Homo sapiens: one gene and its partners. The protein of the gene in region 1 interacts with the protein of each later gene in a biochemical or structural test. Each region holds a gene or a part of one and is shown on either strand. Other genes may lie near its edges.

Region 1 (7,024 bases):
CCGTGGACTCACATATCAGACCCTGTGCTCTGGGTTTGCTTTATTTGAAAAGAAAAGGGATGTGTGCAGAAAGGGAAAGCTCTAAAGGAAAATGAGCCAGCACAAGCAACCCTTTTGCCCCACTACCAGAAGCTGCCAGGTGTGACCATGGGTCTTGAGAGGCTGTCAACGCATAAAAGGTCTTGATCTTGAGTTAAACACACCAGTCTCCAAAGTGCCCAGATTGACCCCATTTCCATGCTAGGAGTATGCCACCAAGACAAAGGACTTTTAGACACACCTGACTGGACAAGAAGCCATAACCTTCCCCAGCCCAACAATGACCCGAGATGGGAAGAATGGCTGGTCCTACAGCCCCATGACATGCTCTTCGGAACGAGGCAGTCTTCTGGGGCCCTGGAGGCTGGTCTGGCTTCACAGGGTGGGTGCCTACTTTTAGACTCAAAGCATGCTGCGGCCAGTACCCAGGCACCACCTGCCCTCGTAAGGGCTCAGTGTGGCCCGAGGACAGAGACAGGCAAGCTCATGCACGGGTTAGTATCACAGAGGGCAGCACCATCACCACATAGAGAGTACCTGGGAACAACCTACTTTGAGGGCTCAAATGCAGATAGGTCTTCTGCCTTGGGCTTGAGGCTAAACCAGCAAAATAAAATGAAGAAAAACAAAAACATACCCTGTGATATCAACAATGCCATAAGTGCCATCTGCAAAATGCTTGGATAGGCCTGAAATCGTGATGAGTGATTTTGTTTGTTTTAATGGCTTGGAACGGGGTCTCTCCAGCTCTCACACTGCAGGTTTCTGTGGCTGAGGGCACTGCTCATTGCAGCAGCAGTGGAAATGGTGAGACTGTTCCTGGGACCCAGATGACAAGGCTGGGGGTAAGGGGTGAGATGGGGTGTCTGAGGCAGTTCATTTAAGGGCTGACTGGCTCACTGGCTCAGCCATCGTTTTACCTCTTTCCTTAATGACCGAGGCCTCCCTTGAACTCCCCTTTACTGTTTAATAATTTTGTTTTGGAAGGGAAGCCCAGTAAATTACAGAAGCCAGAGGAAAGAAGAATGTGGAATGTGGAAATGCCTTTCCTTCTAGGTTGCACTATTAAAAGGAATTCTCTACCCGGTGCCAGTTGTGACTGGAGTCGAGAGGTAGAAGTCAGGGCTGCCTACTGTACCCAACAACGAAGGCAGGCAGAAACAGATCCCCTGGAGTTTTCAGATACAGCTTAACCACTAAAAACAGAGACAGTCCATAAAACTGGAAGCCTATTTTAAAGACTGAGGTAAAGAATAAAAAATTAACTGTATCAGTATCACCTAAACTCAATGGACAGTCTTATCTTAATAACACCTATTTTATAGGTGTTAACCTGGTCCTGGGCTATCAGTTAAGAGCAGAGCATTATTTGGTATGAGAGGACCCTTCTGCTTGGCCCAAATGAGAGAGGTATGCTCTTGGGCTGATAATTAGTATGGAATTTAGCTTCTGAATCTCGACAATGCTGAAAGCTCAAAATACCAGTAGAGAAAGATATGAAACCATTTGCAAAGTAATAAAGTCTTCTCTTTTAAAACAAAGAGGTTCTTTCCTAGACACTTCCTTTTAAGTATGAAAAAAGTTAAAAATTCAGTTTGGTTTTATAGTCCTTGCCACTTAAAGACACCACAAGACTAGAGGGAAAGTCCATTCTCAATAGCCTCCATTTCATTCTGCTTTCTCATAAAGTAAGGCAGCTCCCTGGGTATAACACCCCTTGGCTTAAAAGGGCATTATGCTTTACTGCTAAATGAGGGCTCAAAATCCACCCTGTAACAGGGGTTCATTACATCAGAGCTTTTAACACAAGCTCAACTTCCATCCAGCCAATGGGTTCATAGTCATTGGCAGATTAAATTCCCTTTCTGGCATAAGTTAAAAAATTTCCTCAACTAAGTACATACAAAAGATGCCAATAGTCTAGTGACTTGGCTACTGAGGAAACCAGATGCCAACCGCACATTTCATTAATGATGGTCCTGATCAGCAAAATACAAGAAAGAGACCCTGGGTACCTTTTTAATGGTATTGTGCTTGCTGCTGCCACCCCTGTCGGAGTTCTCATTGTGCAGAATATCCAGAGCTGTCTCCCTCTCTTTCAGTTTCAAGGCCTCGATTTCTGTCTTGAGTTCATTGAGCTGCTCCTGCAGATGCTTGCTCTTTTCCATGTATTCCACTCTGCCGGCAAGAGGGTATCATGCATCAGGGCTTGGGCAGACAGTGAGACACGGCTCAGGTGCTCTGCGGCCCACAAGCTGCTTGGTGTGCGATCTAGGGTTTGAGGCCTGGGGTTCACGTCTCTACTTGGCCACTCACAGGCCATGGGAGCTTGGGCTGGTCACTTAAATGCTATGAATGTTTCCTCATCATTAAAATTGGGATAATGATCACAGGGCCGTGGTTAGGATTAAATAAAACAGTGTAGGAGGCCAGGCACGGTGGCTCCACCTGTAATCCCAGTACTTTGGGTGGCTGAGGCAGGAGGATTGCTTGAGCCCAGGAGTTGGAGACCAGCTTGGGAAACATAGCAAGACCCTGTCTCTATTTTTAAAAAAAAAAAAAGAAAAGGAAAGAAAAAGAAAGAGTAGAAAAGCCCTTGGTAAATTCTCATAGGGGGCTCTACAAATACCAGCTCTCATGGACAGCTTTTCGTTCTGTACAAAAAAAAAACATACGTGAAACAAGCTTCCTGGGAACCCAGAACAATCTCCTTGTCTCAACCCTTCTTGGAGCAGTAATTCAAGTAAACTCTTTTTTTTTTTTATAGGATCTTGCTATGCTGCCCAGGCTGGCTTTGAACCCCTGGTCTCAAAGGGCTGGGATTATAGGCATAAGCCACAGCGCCCAGCTTCACGTGATCTCTTTTGATAGGCCACATCCACATTCCCACTTGTTCTGAGACTTCATCTAAAGATGACAGAAGCTCACTCAGAAGCTCACCCAACGCAAGGAAGAAAAGATCCCCACCCTCACCTGAGAACAGATAACACTGAGTGACAGCATCTATGATGGTGAAAATCTGGAAACCACCCACAAAGTGTCCAACTACAAGGCATGGCCAGAAAAACCATGCAATACAAATACCAAAAACACTCCATAGGGATTGCCATGGTTAGTATAGAGACTCTGCCAATATGTGCAAGGGTAAGAAGTGCTATGGTCTGAATGTTCGTGTCTTCAAAATTCATATGTGGAAACCTAATCACCGGCTGGGTGTGGTGGCTCACGCCTGTAATCCCAACACTTTGGGAGGCCAAGGTGGGCGGATCATGAGGTCAGGAGTTCGAGACCAGCCTGACCAACATGGTGAAACCCCATCTCTACTAAAAATACAAAAGTTAGCTGGGCGTGATAGCATGCGCCTGTAATCCCAGCTACTCAGGAGGCTGAGGCAGGAGAATCGCTTGCACCCAGGAGGTGGAGGTTACAGTGAGCCGAGATCGCACCACTGCACTCCAGCCTGGGCGATGGAGTGAGACTCCATCTCAAAAAAAAAAAAAGTGTCAGGAGGTGGGGCCTTTGGGCAGTCATGAGGGTAGAGCCTCATGAATGGGATTAGTGCCCTTATAAAAGAGACTCCAGAGAGACCCCTCATCCCTTCCACTGGGTGAGCATGCAGCAAAAAGGGGCTGATTATGAACCAGCAAGAATGCCCTCACTAGACTCCACCTCTGCCCGTGCCTTGATCTTGGCCTTCTCAGCCTCCCAAACTGTGAGAAATCAATTTCTTTCTTTTCTTTTTTTTTTTTTTGAGACAGGGTGTCTCTCTGTTGCCCAGGCTGGAGTGCAGTGGTGCAATCTGGGCTCACTGCAACCTCTGCCTCCCAGGCTCAAGCAATCCTCCCACCTCAGCCTCCCGAGTAGCTGGGACCACAGGCATGTGCCACCACACCCAGCTAATTTTTGTATTCTTAGTAGAAATGGGGTTTTGCCATGTTGCCCAGGCTGGTCTTGAACTCCTGGCTCAAGAGATCTGCCCCCCTTGGACTCCCAAAGTGCTGGAATTACAGGCATGAGCCACTGTGCCTGGCCAAGAAATAAATTTCTGTTGTTTATAAGCTACCCAGCCTCTGGTATTTTGTTACAGTAGCCAAAACAAACTAAGATAGTAACAAAATACAAACTATAAAATAGCAGACACAGAACAGCTTCACCCTGATCCCGGATCCCAACCACATAAATGTATATGTCTGGATAATGGTGAAAGGAACATGGACAGCAGATATGACAGCTAGAGGCTCTGGTTCATTGGCTACTTAGCTATACCCTCAGTGTGAGAGCCCAAAGAAAAACAGCCTGGGTTCTGGTTGCCCATACTGGACTCCATGGAGACACTTTCCCCAAAGGGTTTTCCTGAGGATACCACCCATGGTAAAAGCACATGGGCTGCAGAGTCAGATGGGTGAGGGGTTTCAACCCCTCTGCATCAGCTGTGGGATGCTGGTGGAGTTCACTAAACTCTCTAAATCTGAGTTCTCACTTATAAAATGGGAACATGAAAACCTACCTTTGATGTCATTTTGATGTTTGTAAGTTAGCAGGAATTAAATGAGACAAAAGCCAAAACCCCTGACACACAGGCACTCAATGCATGGTAGCTACTGTGGTTGTCCTCTAGCAAGCAGCAGCAGTTAACCAACTTACCGCTAGCTCTGGGAACTAGGGGCCCTCGCTTAGATTTCCTCTGCAGTGGGGATCCTTTCCTTTCCATCTCTGATCCACTTCTACCCACAATAAAGGGAAGACGGAGGGCAGCTCAGCAATTGCTGCCATGATCAGGCCATGCTGGGGCCCTGCCCAGTGCCACCCACTGCAGCAAAGTGGCCCCACCAGCTGTCAGCTTTCCTTAGCCTCGAGCCTGAGTCTCTTCTCTCACCTTTGTTTGTTCTAGACATGGGAACCACCACAGATCCCAGTTGCTGGAGAACACAACTAGGAGGTGACTACAGTCCAGTAGTATAACAGCAGTTGAACTGACTCAGAGATGCTAACAACCCAGTCCTACACTTTAGGTGAGGCTTAGAGCCACCAAAAACTCCAGCTCACCAGTCAAGTGTTATTTTTATCCTGGATAAAAATTGTTATTTTTATTCGTTCAGAATGAATGCTGATCTGTTGTCCTTAATTTCTGATTAAGGAAATTCTTCCTCCAGGGTGTAAGAGCAGAGCAAACCTTTGCAGGAGTAATGACAGGCTGCTGCAGCGACCTCTCACCTCTGCCCCAGCTTCCCAAGGCCCCAATCACTCAGTCTAGTTCACAGCTGCCCACAGCAGGGCACAGGGGGCTACATACTTTTCTTTCTCTATCTCCATGGAAAGCCGCTTCATGTCAGTATCTTTGAAGTCGAAAGACAGGCTGTCACCAATGAGGTTGAAGCTTGGTATGTCAGGAGGCAACGGTGCTGGAATTGGGTTCATGGGCTGTTAATGAGAAATTTCGGATTAGGAGCTTGGGTCATACAAGCACAGAAGGACACTACTGTGTTGACAACCGATCCTCCAGCAGCCACAGAGGCAATGGGCACAACTCGGGTCCCACCTCCCAATGCCACCACGAGTCCCCATCCCTCCACTTCACTCCCTCCACATTTGCCACTGCCAGGTAAACAATATCAAAGACTACAAATCCAGGAAAATCATCCCTCAAATCTCTAACCGTTCTTCATGCTCAGCTGAATCAAACACAAACTCCCACTCGCTTTTTCATTTAGGAAACTCCCAGGCCCTGTGCAAGGGGCTGGAGATGCAGAAAACAAGACAGCATCCTTGGCTTTGAGCAGCTGAAAGTCTTGTTCAGGAAATAGATGTGTTCACAGATCATCACTGTTAAAAAAGGTAAACACTGTAGCCAGGGAGCGAACAGAGGCTAGAAGAGATGCTGCTTTTGCTGGGATCCAAGGCAGTGCCAGGAGAAGGTCTGCCGGACGGGAAGTATGGCAATGGGTGGGGCAGTGCCCAGTGAGGGTGCCAGGAGTCTGCCATGCAGTGTGGAGAGGTGGGGTGGGAGATGGGCACCACCACAAAGGGCTCCCCACCGGCCCACCGAGGGGCTTGGGCTTGGACAATGGAACCGGAGTAGGGCCTGAAGCAGGGGTGGTGTAGTTTTTTTTTTTTTTGGACTTTCATCCCAGCACAAAGGGTCATCTAAAGAGGACCCCAATCTAGCTTCCCGGCTTCTCCTACTATTTGCCCTACTAAGTCACAGACAGTATTGTTTATTATCCCCTGGACTACTGCCTTCCCATCTCTGTACCCCTGCCTATCCCATTTCTCCTCCCTATGCTCCATCCCTCTTTCAAGGCCCTTCTCAAACACCACGATCTCTCACCAAAGCCTTTCTAGCCCCTCCCAGCCAGCCGGCAACCCTTTTCTTTGCTGTCCCTTAACGCTGTGTTTACGGTTCTCTAATGGTTCTTCTGCGATTCCACCCTGTAAAAGATTTCTTTTTGGCTGTATCTTCTTTCTACTATTTGCAAGTTTCCTGCAAACAATCTGCCTCTTTTTCATCCTTGGATCCCGTATTGAGTCTAGGACAGTGTCTGGGAAAGAGCAGAGGCTTGGAACATTCATTTGAGACATTCTCAAGGCCTGAGGCAGACCGTCTGCAAGGGTGCTGAGAGAAGGCTCCTTGGGTGCCAGGGATGTCCTGTTTTCTGATCTGGGTGCTGGGTACATGGGTATGTTCAGTTTGTGAAAATTCTTCAAACTGTACAGTTGTAATTTGGGCACTTCTCTATGTGTATGTTACACATCATAAAAATTTTCAGCAAAAACGCGTACTAGTTGCTGCACCACTAGTGAGAGCATGAACTGGTATGACTTCTTTGGAGAGTATCAAAATCGAAAATTTGACCCCACAGTTCTATTATAAGAATTTATTCTACCAATATATCCACGTGTGTGTGTCAAGATTTGTGTTCAGGGATGTTCAGTGTCATTTTGTTCAAAATTGCAAAAGAAAACAGACTAAATACTCATCCATGAG
Region 2 (7,839 bases), on another chromosome or scaffold:
GTCTGCGTAAAACCCATTTTGTGGCTAACATGGATCTATCTAAAAAATCCAGTTGCATCTCTCCCCTTGGGACTTCCAGGGTGCAGCAGCCACACCAATTTCTTTATTTACCATAATTTGAAAGCCTTATTAATCCTAAAGGCTCAGCTCTATAATCACATTTGGTTAGCTTGAGACTAATCCTTAGAGGTTATTTATTTTTCATGAAGATTGCTTCCCAGCTACTGGTTTATTTAGACTTTACTAATAATTATTTCGCAAGAGCTTTTTTCACCACTGCTCATTTATATGTGTAGAATTCACACTGTGAATATGAACTAAGGATGAATTTTTTTAAGAGTTAAGGTTTAACTGGAATGTCATTTTTTCTTTACTGTGCCAGATCATTCCTTTTCTGGGAAGCTGTCCCGTGAAATAATTAAATATTGTCCCTTTAAAAGAGTCTGTGACCTGCTGCATTTGTAATCCTTGAATTCCATGATTCAGCCCAAGATCTCCCAGCTTTCCATTTCACACTCCTGCTCACATTTGGTTTAGATTTGGCTTTTCTTTGCTCGAGAGGAACAGGATTTATTACTACCAGTCAGAAGCCATCAGTCCCCAATATTTCAGCAAAGAACCCTAGTCTGCCAGAGTGAGTAATGCTCTGTTTGCACTCAAGTCTCCCTGAACCAGTCACCCCAAATAGGATGTCACTGCTTGCATTTATTTAGAAACTGTCAAGTTGTCTATGTGTTTCCTCCCACCAGTTCATGTGATTCCTGAAACACCCCTATGCGCTTTGATGGGAGGGAAAAAAAATAACAGTCCCTCATACATTTATGTAATGCTTATTTATGGAGCACAGTGTATATGTTAGGGACTGAGAGCTGAGTATGTGCTGGCACCCCAGAAGGACATGTCCCTGTTCTCAGGTAGCTTAGAGGTCATTGAGTCCCACCATGAGGCAGGCACACCAGGAAATGGTCTTGATGTCTTCTTTCACTGACTACTCATAATAAACTATGGGAAAGGTCTGATTACCCTTGTTTTGTGGCTGGGATTACCGAAACTCCCAGAGGTTAAGTCATCCTCTGATAAGGGGGAAAGCCAATGCTCAGACCTGGACTTTCTCGGTCCAAGGCTGCTGATTGAATTCTGGATTCTTCCCAAATAGTGTAATCTCGTGTCAACTCAAATCAATTCAAGTTTCCTTTCCAGTTTCCCACATCCCATGGTTTGGCTTAGAAAGAAAGATGGTGCAACACACAACAGATATCAAGCATCTAAGAGTTTGGGAAGGGTTTGTGTGACCAGTGGTGTGGGCAGGGTGTCTTTAGAATGGAAAGTGGATGAGAGGGGAGCTCAAAGAGGTGATCCAGGAATTCCCAAAGGTGGACCTTGACTCAGTAAGTCACCAGGTCTGTTATTTGAAATGAGTCATTTGTGGTATGGGGGCAAATGACCTCAGTCCCTCACCAAACTATCGGGAAGCAAGCAAACAAAATAATCCCCGCTTCTGGGGAGAATAATCCTAATTACAGCCCCTAGAATTTGCATGCCCTTCTACAGTTTGCAAAGCACTTTCACACCTATATTTTCCTTGGTGGAATTGTTTACTGCACTAATGGAGAAGGGACCAGGACTTGATATGGCCTAGTTTGTTGGTTTTTATATATTTTTTAAGAATAATCATCTGTCAAAATGTAATTTCATGCAATAGTCTGGTATATAAAACTGATGCAAGTGGAACTTCTGTGGTTGGGATGGGGCCTGGGGAGGGAGAGGCACAGCTTACTCCTCAGCTTTTACTCTGACCACTAGGTCTGCTTCTGAGGGGTCTCTAAGGAACCTCCAGGTTCCATGAAACACAGTAAGACAGACATTGTTCCTAGTGACTCCCCACGTCACTTCACTTTCTTGCTCCAAGAAAAGGAAGCTGAAATCCCTGGAGGTTGCATGAGGTGAAAAAAGCTGCTCCTTGTCCTGTATTCTTGTGCATGGAACCTACCAGGGCTGGTTTCCTCACATGAGTAGGGACTGAAGCCTTATCTGGGAGCCAGTTTGCCCCCAGTTGTTTCAAGAAATAAAGTGTCCTCTTGGTCACAGACAGCAGCAGTAACAACTTTTTCCTGCGGACTGGCAGCATTTTCCAAGCACCTGCTCTTCAGGTGGGAGTTACGGGTCACTGTCTTCATTCCAGACGGGCGGCTCTTTGAGTCATGGCATGCCAGCTTCTGAGTGGCTGAGGACTAGATCCAGACAAGGATTTTTCAGTCCCAAACACTCTTCCTGAAAATGCAAGAGGAGTAGTCTTTAGTCAAACAGAATCTCCACAACTGAAAAATTTATACCGGACTAGACAGTGGTAGTGGTTGCACAATATTGTTAAAGTACTACACGTCACTGCTATAAACACTTTTAAATGGGTGAAATGGTAAATTTTATGTTATGCATATTTTAACATAACAATGATAATAATTTTAACTAAGTACGTTGCCTCCTTATTTCCTACAGGGTCAAGTTCAAACTCCCTGGCATAGCTTACACCTTGTAGTCCCCATACCTGTAACCTCATGTCTGCTATCTTCCCCCAGCCCCTTCATCTGATCTATGTTCAGATCAGCTCACATTGCTCTCTATTCTCTGGACAAGCCATGTTCTTTCACTTTTCTATGCTCAAACACAATTTTGCTTTTAGTAATGATAGCAAACACTTATTTAAAGTGCTTACTGCATGCATATGTAGACATAAATCTACGGCTTAATACATGCAGGGCTTTTGAGTCATTTAATCCTCACCAATTCTATGAAGTAATAGAATTGTAATAGTAATAATAGATACTATTATTAAGCCCATTTTATACTTGAGCAAATTGAGCTAATTGCCTTAGGCAAGGTCACACAACTAAGAAGCAGCCATAATAGGGTTTGGATCTAGGTGTTCTAGCTCCTGAATCCATGCTGTTCGTCACTACACTGTACTGCCTGTGGATGACTTACTTGTCCCTGTAGTTTCATCTGAAGAATTCCTCCTCCTTTTCCTTTGAGGCCTGCCTCAAATATCACTTCCCCTGTGAAGACTGCCTGGTGTTCTCCAGGAGAGAGTGTGACTCCCTTCTCTAGGAATGGTAGCACCCCAAACACACACATTTTGCAGCATATTTCACCTTGCATGGTAATGGCCTGCTTGTGAGTTTTATTCCGTACCAGAGGGTGAGGGCTCTGAAGATAGCGCCAGGTCTTATTTACCTCGATACCCCACAACACTCATTACATGTCTGATGAATGAATGCATAGGGGGATGGCTGGGTGCATTTCTCTCAACTTTTCAATTTCTTGAAATAAATAACAAAATCTTACCTTCCCTCAGAAGTCCTGGCATGGTTCCTTTCATCTTGCCACAGCCACTGATAATCACTTTCATTTTCTGTGTAACTCACCAGGCAAGAAGTCCATGCAGATTTACTTTTAGTAGTTCACATGACAAATAAATACTGCGTTTGATTTCCAAACATTAAACCATAGTATATTATAGATAGATATAGAGTTATCATTCAAAGTATGATATTTCAATCTCAAAAGGCTTCCCCTGAAGAATATTACAAACTCTTCCTCTCTTTAAGATCTGCTGGGTAGGAAAGATGGGAGAAAATGAATTAATGTTTACACAGAAAGGAGGATAATGGGGGCAAAAATAATAGATGAACGTATGGGTGGATGAGAGAATGGATAAAATGATAGGTGGATATGTTGATCTTGGACAGATGGGAAATGAGTGGATATATCAATAAACAGATATGTGGGTGGATGGGTGGAGAAGAGGATGGTGGATGGTTGTGGTTTTATGAAGAGATGTGAAAAAGGAAGTGTGGAATGATGGATGAGAAGTTGTATGGGAAGATGAATAGAAGAATAGGTGGTTGAATAAATTAAAAGGTGTGTGGTTGGATGAATGAATGAGTGGGATGATAGATGGACCTAAGTGGTTAGTGGATGGACAGGAGGATGGATGGATGTGAGAGCCCCAGAAGGACATAAGGAAAGATGGGTGGATAGATGGATGGGCGGATGGAAGGATATTTAGGAGGATGAATGAGCATGTGTGTGGAGAGAGGTGCCCATTCACACTGGCTTGAACACATGGGTTAGCTGAGCCAAATGCCAGCCCTATGACAGGCCATCAGTAGCTTTCCCTGAGCTGTTCTGCCAAGAAGCTAAAATTCATTCAAGCCATGTGGACTTGTTATTGAGGGGAAAAAGAATGAGCTCTCCCTCTTTCCACTTGGAAGATTCACCAACTCCCCACCCCTCACTCCCCACTGTGGGCACGGAGGCACTGCGCCACCCAGGGCAAGACCTCGCCCTCTCTCCAGCTCCTCTCCCAGGATATCCAACATCCTGTGAAACCCAGAGATCTTGCTCCAGCCGGATTCAGAGAAATTTAGCGGGAAAGGAGAGGCCAAAGGCTGAACCCAATGGTGCAAGGTTTTACGGTTCGGTCATCCTCTGTCCTGACGCCGCGGGGCCAGCGGGAGAAGAAAGCCAGTGCGTCTCTGGGCGCAGGGGCCAGTGGGGCTCGGAGGCACAGGCACCCCGCGACACTCCAGGTTCCCCGACCCACGTCCCTGGCAGCCCCGATTATTTACAGCCTCAGCAGAGCACGGGGCGGGGGCAGAGGGGCCCGCCCGGGAGGGCTGCTACTTCTTAAAACCTCTGCGGGCTGCTTAGTCACAGCCCCCCTTGCTTGGGTGTGTCCTTCGCTCGCTCCCTCCCTCCGTCTTAGGTCACTGTTTTCAACCTCGAATAAAAACTGCAGCCAACTTCCGAGGCAGCCTCATTGCCCAGCGGACCCCAGCCTCTGCCAGGTTCGGTCCGCCATCCTCGTCCCGTCCTCCGCCGGCCCCTGCCCCGCGCCCAGGGATCCTCCAGCTCCTTTCGCCCGCGCCCTCCGTTCGCTCCGGACACCATGGACAAGTTTTGGTGGCACGCAGCCTGGGGACTCTGCCTCGTGCCGCTGAGCCTGGCGCAGATCGGTGAGTGCCCGCCGCAGCCTGGGCAGCAAGATGGGTGCGGGGTGCTCAGCGCGGACCCGGCGGCAGCCCCTCCGGCTGAGTCGGCCCTGGGGGACTGGAGTCAAGTGAGCTGTCTGCGAAGTGCATTGGGCTCCGGAAAGCAGGGCTGGGATTTGCGCTAAACCGTTGGAGAATGTGTCTGTGGAAGCACCATTTGGTTGAAAGAAAAAGAGAAAGAGAAGAAAGTTTGTTGGGCAGGCTGCCGGCGCGCAGTTTTGGGCGAGGTCGCTAGAGCTGCAGCACATGGCAGAAAGTAACCGTTCTCCCGGATGCGCACAGTCGTTGTCTGGACTAACAGGCTCCTGTGCCCAAGGGCTCGCCAAGCCCCACCGGGCTGTGTCTAGGCAGGGCAGAGCTGGGCGGGGCAGAGACTGGGGCTGGAACAGGGCGAGTGGCTGTTATCAAGGTGGTCACAGAAGGGATCACAATTCCAAGTGTGAGACTAGCTGGCAATGGGTTTTCCAGAAAGGGGTCCTGGGTTCTCCCAGCTCCCCACTGAGCCTTGTTCCAAAGCTTACAGTCCGCAGTGTCACTGCCACCTTAGCGCTGTGGAAGCTTGAACCAGCTCTGCGGTGAGGTCTTGGGTCTCCATGAGATTCCAGCCTGGGATAGGGAGCATGAATATGAGAGGCAACCACTGGACCAGCTGCTTGGTCCTCACCACCTCCTGCTTCTGCCAATCAGTGTGGGGAAATCTCAACAGTAAGGTGGCTTATATTCCCTGCCTGGCAGCCTCAGAGCAGAGAGAAGAGCCTTGATACCAGGGCAACATCAGGGACCCTGGAGCTAGGGCTCCAATATCTCATCCAAACAGGGTCAGTGCTTTGTGGTGGCTATGGAGGGGAGGGGCTGCGTGTAAGGTATATTCTAGCACGGCTCAACTCCAAGCATTCTCTTTCTTTGTCTATGTATGTACAGATAATTACATGGCCGATTTGCTTATCGCTGGCCAAAATTAATCTTTCTTTTAAGAAGTGCCAGCTGGGTCATTAAGACAGCTCAGCCTGCATGCAGTAAATTCTACTCAGCAAATATTTATTAACCCAGTTCCACGGGAGTACTGAGAAATTGAAACACACAGTCTCACCCAGGTAGTTTAGATTGAGTACCCAGTATAAAGTATCTTGAATTACTTTCTGCTTTCTCTATCTTCCTACTTTCTGCAGTAGGAAGAAAGTGACCCTAGGTGGAGGCTAGGCAGGATGAGTTCTCTGTGCATATGCATCTCCCTTTCTGTGTGAGTGAGAGGTCTTTGCTAGGTGGGGATTTGGGGATCTAGGATTTATACTACTGAAGCTGAAATAATAATAATAATGATAGCAACAACACAGCCTGTCATGGTGGCCCATGCCTGTAATCCTAGGACTTTGGGAGGCTGAGGCAGCAAATTACCCAAGGTCAGGAGTTTGAGACCAGCCTTGGCCAACATGGTGAAACCCCATCTTTACAAAAAATACAAAAATTAGCAGGGTGTGGTGGTGCACACCTGTAGTCCCAGCTGCTTGGGACGCTGAGGCAGGAGAATTGCTTGAACCTAGGAGGTGAAGGTTGCAGTGAACCAAGATTATGCCATTGCACTCCAGCCTGGGTGACAAAGCGTGACTCTGTTAAAAAAAAAAAAATGAATACAGTGCTAGCTACCATTTACTGTATATTTTCACTGTGCCAGGCATTATGTTAAATATTTTCCATGTGTTATCTCATTCTACCCTCACAATGGCCTAGTAAGAAGCTTCCTGTTATCAGGCCTGTTTGACAGGAGGAAAACTGATGCTTAGAGACGTTAAGTGACTTGCTGGCATTCACATAGCCAGGAGCAGTGCTGGATGGAAACCCAGCTCCACTGAGCTCCAAAGCCTAGGCTTAGAATATGTTAGACTGTATAAGATGGACGAACTTGGAAGGATTTCAGGGAGGGAAGGATTTTGGTGGACTCTAGGCCTTAGGGAAAGTTCCAAAAGGGACTGGAGCTCAAATAAGCCCTTGAAAAGTGGAAACATTCAGGATGGGAGAGAAGAGTCAAGCTGGAGATCAGGGAGAGCCCTGGGCCTGGCCTGAAAGAAGAGGGCCCTGGTGGTTTCCCTATAGTCTCTAGGGAAGTTTATTTGTATGTTACCTACCAGTGCCATCTTCTGCTTTGTCTTTGGGCATTCTGACTCCTGACTCCTTCCAACCTGTCTCCCCGTTCCTTCTAAAAGGCCCCACTTCCAAATATTTGGCACTGTCCTAACCCTTGAGGTTCTCCCAGAGACCCGCAGTCTCCCTCCTGCCCCGTGTTTCCACGGCCCCTTTGCGCAGCATCATTTAGAGGAAGTACAATGAAGTGCCAGTAGCAATAACTGCCCCGGCCCTCGCTTTCATGTGCTTGTAAAGTTGTTTGGCAGGAACTGGGACTTGGAAAGGAGACATGACTTTGTCAGAGGGCTTGGGGCTGGGCATGGTGTGGGTGGCGAAGGGGAGAAGGAGGAAAGGGGAAGGAAAGGAGCTCTTGTTGCCCCATTCTGGGGAGTGGTGGACTCTGGACAACCACGAGGAAACTTTGGAAAGGAGCAAGGCTTTGAGGAGGAGTCCAGTCTTTGTATGGGAAAGCAAAAAGTGGAGAAATGGCCAAATGTAGTTAAGTGACATTGGACCCAGAAACTCTGAGTTGGGGAACAGATATCTTGAATTCGGGGTCTTGTGCAGGAGGAAGAAAGTGGCCCTTGGTGGAGGCCAGGGGGGATGAGTCCTTCATGCACATGCATCTCCTTGTCTCTGTGGGTGAGGGGATCTTTTTTTTTAATTA
Region 3 (7,024 bases), on another chromosome or scaffold:
AAGAGCAACACACAAAAATCAGTTGTACTGCTATACACTAGCCAAAAAACAATATGAAAGTAAATGAAGAGAACAATTTCATTTACAATAGCACCAAAAATAATAAAATAATTAGAAACAAATTTAATTTAAAAGGCACAAGGCCGGGAAGGGTGGCTCACACCTGTTAATCCCAGAACTTTAGGAGGCCAAGGTGGGTGGATTGCTTGAGCTCAGGAATTCAAGTCCAGCTGGGGCAACATGGCAAAACCTAGTCTTTACAAAAAAGGCAAAAAATTAGCCAGGCATGGTGTGCACCTGTACCAGGTATGCACCTGTACTCCCAGCTACTCGGTAGGCTGAGGTGGGAGAATCACCTGAGCCCAGTAAGTTGAGGCTGCAGTGAACCAAGATCGCACCACTGCACTCTAGCATTGAAGACATAGCGGGACCCTGTCTCAACAACAACAAAAAAGGCACAAACACAAGACTTGTATGCTGAAAACTACAAAACATTGCTGGAGTCAATTCATGATGACCTAAATTTTAAATAACCTAAATAAACAAAAAGACATTCTGTGTTCATGGATTAGAAGGGTTAGTATCAAGATGGTAATACATTCCAACGTGGTCTACAAATAAAATGCAATCGCTATCAAAATCCCAATGACAAACCAGGCATGGTGGCTCACGCCTGTAATCCCAGCACTTTGGGAGGCCAAGATGGGTGGATCACCTGAGTTCAAGAGTTCAACACCAGCCTGGCCAACATGGTGAAACCCCATCTCTACTAAAAATACAAAACATTAGCTGACCATGGTGGCAGACGCCTGTAATCCCGGCTATCTGGGAGAATGAGGCAAGAGAACCACTTGAACCCAAGAGGCAGAGGTTGCAGTAAGCCGAGATCGTGCCACTGCACTCCAGCCTGGGAGCAACAGAGAGAGACTCTGTCTCAAAAAACAACAACAACAAAAACAACCCAATGACATCTTTTGCAGAAATGGACATGCTGATTCTAAAATTCGTATGTAATTGCAAGGAAACCTGAATAGGCACAACAATCTTGGAAAAAAAAAAAAAAAAAACAAAGTCGGGGTCAGGCGCAGTGGCTCACACCTGTAATCCCAGCACTTTGGGAGGTCGAGGCAGGTGGATCACAAGGTCAAGAGATCGAGACCATTCTGGCCAATATGGTGAAACCCCATCCCCAGTAAAAATACAAAAATTAGCTGGGCGTGTTGGCACGCACCTGTAATCCCAGCTACTGGGACAGCTGAGGCAGGAGAACCGCTTGAACCTAGGAGACGGAGGCTGCAGTGAGCCAAGATTGCGCCACTGCACTCCAGCAAGGCAACAGAGCGAGACTATGTCTCCAAAAAAAAAAAAAAAAGTTGGAAAAATCACACTTCTGATTTCAAAACTTGCTACAAAACTATAGTAAATGGAACAGCATGGCACTGACATAAGGATCAACACAGAGACAAATACAATAGAATTGATAATCCAGCAATAAGCACTCACATCTATGATCAATTTTCAACAAGGGTACCAAGACCATTCAATAGGAAAAAAGTAATTTCAATAAGTAGTGCTGCCCAGGTGCAGTGGCTCATGCCTGTAATCCCTGCACTTTGGGAGGCCAAGACAGGCAGATAACTTGAGCAGGAGTTCGAGACCAGACTGGCCAACATTGTGAAACCCCATCTCTACTAAAATACAAAAATTAGCCAGGCATGGTGGCGCGCCTGTAACCCCAGCTACTCAGGGGGGCTGAGGCAGGAGAACTGCTTGAATCCAGGAGGCGGAGGTTGCAGTGAGCTGAGACAGCGCCACTGCCCTCCAGCCTGGGCGACAGAGCAAGACTCCATCTCAAAAAACAAACAAACAAAAAAGTACTGATGAGACTTGGCACAGTGGCTCACGCCTGTTATCCCAGCACTGTGGGAGGCCGAGGTGGGCAGATCACGAGGTCAGGAGATCAAGACCATCCTAGCCAACATGGTGAAACCCCATCTCTACTAAAATACAAGAAATTGGCCAGGTGTGGTGGCACACACTGGTAGTCCCAGCTACTCGGGGGGGCTGAGGGAGGGGAATCGCTTGAACCTGCGGGAGGCGGAAGTTGCAGTGAGCCGAGACTGCACCACTGCACTCTAGCCTGGTGACAGAGCAAGACCCGTCTCAAAAAAAAAAAAAAAGTAGTGAGACAATTGGATATTATCCCACAAAACAGCGAAGTTGGATCTTTGCCTCACAGTATATGCGAAAATGGGCCGAGTGCTGTGGCTCATGCCTATAATCCCAATACTTTAGGCAGATCATCTGAGGTCAGGAGTTTGAGACGAGTATGGCCAACAAGTTGAAACCCCATCTCTACTAAAAATACAAAAAAGAGCTGGGCATGGTGGCAGGTACCTGTAATCCCAGCTACTCGGGAGGTTGAGGCAGGAGAATCACTTGAACTCGGAGGGGACGGAGGTTGCAGTCAGCCGAGATTACCCCAATGCACACCGGCCTGGGCAAAAGGAGTGAGACTTTGTCTTAAAAACAAAAAAAAGGCCAAGAAACGCATGAAAGATACTCAACATCAGTCACTAGGAACTGCAAATCAAAACCATAATGAGATATCATTTCTCACCTACTAACATGACTGTAGTTTAAGAAATGAGAAAATATAAGCATTAGCAAGCATGTGAAGAAACTGGAACACATATTGCTTGTAGAAATGTAAAAGGGTGGCCCCGGGCGCGGTGGCTCATGCTTGCAATCTCAGCACTTTGGGAGGCCGAGGCAGGCGGATCGCGAGGTCAGGAGACAGAGACCATCCTGGCTAACATGGTGAAACCCCATCTCTACTAAAAATACAAAAAATTAGCTGGGCGTGGTGGCAGGCACCAGTAGTCCCACCTACTCGGGAGACTGAGGCAGGAGAATGGCGTGAACCCGGGAGGTGGAGCTTGCAGTGAGCCGAGATCGCGCCACTGCACTCCATCCTGGGTGACAGAGCAAGACTCCCTCTCAAAAAAATAAATAAATAAATAAAAGAAATGTAAAAGGGTATAGTAGTTATAAAAAACAGTTTGGGACTCTCTCAAAAAGTTGCAGGTTTTTTTTTTTAAGTCACATGTAGAATTACTATACGACCCAGCAATTTCACTACTAGATATATACCCAAAAGAACTGAAAACAAGGCTGGGTGTGGTGGCTCACACCTCTAATCCCAGCACTTTGGGAGGCCAAGGCGGGCAGATCTCCTGAGGTCGGGAGTTTAAGACCAGCCTGACCAACATGGAGAAACCCCATCTCTACTAAAAATACAAAATTAACCAGGCATGGTGGCACATGCCTGTAATCCTAGCTACTGGGGAGGCTGAGGCAGGAGAACCGCTTGAACTCAGAAGGCAGAGGTTGAAGTGAGCCAAGATTACGCCATTGCACTCCAGCCTGGGCAATGAGCGCAAAACTCCATCTCAGGGGAAAAAAAAAAGGAATTCAAACAAAGACTTATACACAAATGTTCTTGGTAGCATTATTCACAATAGCCAAAAAGTAGAAACAACCCAAAAGTCCATCATCAGATGAAGAGATAAACAAAATGTGGTATATGCATACAATGGAATATTCAGTCATAGAAATGAATGAAGTAGTAACATGCTACAGATGTGGAAAAACCTTGAAAACAATAAGAAAGCAGACACAAAAGGGCACATATTGTATGATTCTATTTATATAAAACATTGAAGGCTGGGCATGGTGGCTCACACCTGTAACCCCAGCACTTTGGGAGGCCAAGGCGGGTGGATCATGAGGTCAACAGTTCGAGACCAGCCTGGCCAACATGGTGAAACCCCCGTCTCTACTGAAAGTACAAAAATTAGCCGGGCGTGGTGGCATGCGCCTGTAGTCCTAGCTACTCAGGAGGCTGAGGCAGAAGCATCGCTTGAACCTGGGAGGCGGAGGTTGCAGTGAGCCAAGATTGCGCCACTGCACTCCAGCCTGGGCGACAGAGCGAGATTCCGTCTCAAAAAAAAAAAAAAAGTTGAAATAGGTAAATCAATATACAGAAAGCTAACTAGTAGTTGCCAAGGACTTGAGGAAAGGGGAAAATGGGCAGTGACTGCTAAATGGGTATGAGGTTTCCTTTTTTTTTTTTTTTTGAGATGGAGTCTCACTCTGTCGCCCAGAGACTGGAGTGCAGTGGCAGGATCTCGGCTCACTGCAAGCTCCGCCTCCCGGGTTCATGCCATTCTCCTGCTTCAGCCTCCCGAGTAGCTGGGACTACAGGCACCGGCCACCACACCCGGCTACTTTTTTGTATTTGTAGTACAGACGGGGTTTCACCGTGTTACCCAGGATGGTCTCAATCTCCTGACCTCGTGATCCACCCGCCTCAGCCTCCCAAAGTGCTGGGATTACAGGTGTGAGCCACCGCGCCCGGCCGAGGTTTCCTTTTAAGGTGATAAAAATATTCTAGAACTAGAAAGAGATAATGGTTGCACAACACTGTGAATCTACAAACGCCACTGATTTGTACACTTCAAAATGGGTAGTCGTTAATTTTATGCTACGTAAATTTACCACAATTTTTTAATGAGAAAAGAAATGATCCAGAAGAGACTGCTTCTTAGATAACTTAAGCAGTTAGCCTACTAGAGCACATAAAGACATGATTTTTTAAAAAACACTACCTCTAATAAAGATTAATTCAAGGGCATTAAAACACTAAAATTTTATATTTTTAAAATTTTTTAATTTTTATTATTTTGTAGAGACAGGGTCTCACTATGTTACCCAGGCTGGTCTCAAATTGCTGGGCTCAAGCAATCCTCTCCACTTGGCCTTCCAAAGTGCTAGGATTGTAGACATGAGCCACCATGCCTGGCCTAAAACACTAAAATTTTAGAGTTCAACTTAGAAACATATACATATATACTTCTGGTATCATTTTCAGAACTTCCAACTAATCTATGCCTGAAGATAATTATAACTTTGGGAATAACCATTTGCCCAAGGAAAATATAAACCTTAGTGAGACCTTGTCTCTATTATTTAAAAAAATAAAAAATAGGCCAGGCGTGGTGGCTCACGCCTGTAATCCCTGCACTTTGGGAGGCCAATGCGGGTGTATCATCTGAGGTCAGGAGCTCGAGACCAGCCTGGCCAACATGATGAAACCCTGTCTCTACTAAAAATACAAAAAATTAGCCGGACGTGGCAGCAGGCGCCTGCAATCCCAGCCACTCGGGAGGCTGAGGCAGGAGAATCGCTTGAACCCGGGAGGCAGAAGTTGCAGTGAGCCGAGATTGCACCACTGCACTCCAGCCTGGGCGACAAGAGCAAAACTCCATCTCAAAAAAAATATTAAGAATAATAAAGAATAAAAAAATATAAAGGCAAGGCGTGGTGGCTCACACTTGTAATCCCAGCACTTTGGAAGGCTGAGGTAGGAGGATCACTTGAGCCCAGGGGTTTGAGACCAGCCTGGGTAACAGTAAGACCTTGTCTTTATTATTTAAATACATAAATAAAGGAAAATATAAACTTGTAACAGACTAAATAAAGGAAAATATAAACTTGTAACAGACTTAACTAATAATAGCAATGTGAATTAACATAGTATCAATGAAAGCAGTCAGCAACTGAGTGTGGTGGCTCACACCTGTAATCCCAGCACTTTGGAAAACCTAGGTGGGCAGATCGCTTGAGCCCAGGAGTTTGAGACCAGCCTGGACAACATGGTGAAATCCTGCCTCTATGAAAAAAATTTAAAAATCAGTAGTAGTAGTACTTACTTCAATGTTCGTTTTTTTGTGTTTGTTTTTTGTTTTGTGAGACGGAATCTCGCTCTGCTGCCCAGGCGGGAGTGCAGGGACACAATCTTGGCTCACTGCAACCTGTAGTCCCAGCTACCTGGGGAGGCTGAAGCAAGAGAACTGCTTGAGCCTAGGAGGTGGAGGCTGCAGTGAGCCATAACTGCACCACTGTACTCCAGCCAGAGCAAAAGTGCGAGACCTTGTCTCAAGGAAAAAAAAAAAAGGCCGGGCACAGTGGCTCACACCTGTAATCTCAGCACTTTAGGAGGCCAAGGCAGGCAGATCACCTGAGGTTGGGAGTTCGAGACCAGCCTGACTAATATGGAGAAACCCTGTCTCTACTAAAAATACAAAATTAGGCCGGGCGCAGTGGCTCACGCCTGTAATCCCAGCACCTTGGGAGGCCGAGGCCGGCAGATCACAAGGTCAGGAGTTCGAGACCACCTGGCCAACATGGTGAAACCGCATCTCTACTAAAAATACCAACAAAATTAGCCAGGCATGGTGGCACACGCCTGTAATCCCAGCTGCTCCGGAGGCTGAGGCAGCAGAATCGCTTGAACCCAGGAGACAGAGGTTGCAGTGAGCCGAGATCGCGCCACTGCACTCCAGCTTGCACAACAAGAGCAAAGAAAACAGTCATCTTCACCTTGTTATGCCCAAGACAATAAGGGTGCATTACTCAAGTTCTTAAGTGAGTTCCTTTAAGTGCTATGAAGAAATGATGGTCTGTCCAATGGTGACACGGTAGTTACCAATTAGTGAATATCTAGTATGGGACAGACATTGAGCTAAGTAATTTACCATACTTACATTATTCTGAATTTTCACAACCATCCTACCCTTTTTCACACATGAGGAAACTAGCTCAGAGAGGTCCCCAAGACCAGCTAGTACTAGGTAGAAAAAAGGTTTCAAGGATTCAAATCCCAACTCTGCTGACATACCTGTGAAGTCTTGGTTATTTAACTTCTCCAAATCTCAATTTCCTTATCTGCAAGATGGAAACAGTTGTTGTGCGGGGTTAAATGACAATATTGTCCCCATGATGGGATAATATAAAGCCTCAAGAAATACTTATGTAAAATTTTCTTATCCTAACAAGCATCTGCTAGGGTATTTAGGGATGACAGGCCTGCAACTTATTTTCAAATGATTCCACAAAATATATATATAGATACCACACACACAAATAGAGAAAATATGGCATAATATTAACAACTGTTTGC

The links.
Region 2: the proteins of NF2 (region 1) and CD44 form a complex in vitro, tested with the Homo sapiens proteins (2 studies listed by BioGRID, with this or other methods).
Region 3: the proteins of NF2 (region 1) and DCAF1 form a complex in vitro, tested with the Homo sapiens proteins (3 studies listed by BioGRID, with this or other methods).

The regions. Positions count from the first base shown.
Region 1 is NC_000022.11:29,676,632-29,683,655, reverse strand, and holds part of NF2 (merlin), read right to left. Parts: intron 5,461-7,024; coding exon 5,333-5,460; intron 2,218-5,332; coding exon 2,055-2,217; intron 637-2,054; coding exon of another isoform or gene 601-636; exon of another isoform or gene 1-600. UniProt on the Homo sapiens protein: Probable regulator of the Hippo/SWH (Sav/Wts/Hpo) signaling pathway, a signaling pathway that plays a pivotal role in tumor suppression by restricting proliferation and promoting apoptosis.
Region 2 is NC_000011.10:35,134,356-35,142,194, forward strand, and holds the start of CD44 (CD44 antigen isoform 1 precursor), read left to right. Parts: upstream 1-4,815; 5' UTR 4,816-4,948; coding exon 4,949-5,015; intron 5,016-7,839. UniProt on the Homo sapiens protein: Cell-surface receptor that plays a role in cell-cell interactions, cell adhesion and migration, helping them to sense and respond to changes in the tissue microenvironment.
Region 3 is NC_000003.12:51,489,992-51,497,015, forward strand, and holds part of DCAF1 (DDB1- and CUL4-associated factor 1), read right to left. Parts: intron 6,790-7,024; 5' UTR 6,743-6,789; intron 2,523-6,742; exon of another isoform or gene 2,398-2,522; intron 1-2,397. UniProt on the Homo sapiens protein: Acts both as a substrate recognition component of E3 ubiquitin-protein ligase complexes and as an atypical serine/threonine-protein kinase, playing key roles in various processes such as cell cycle, telomerase regulation and histone modification.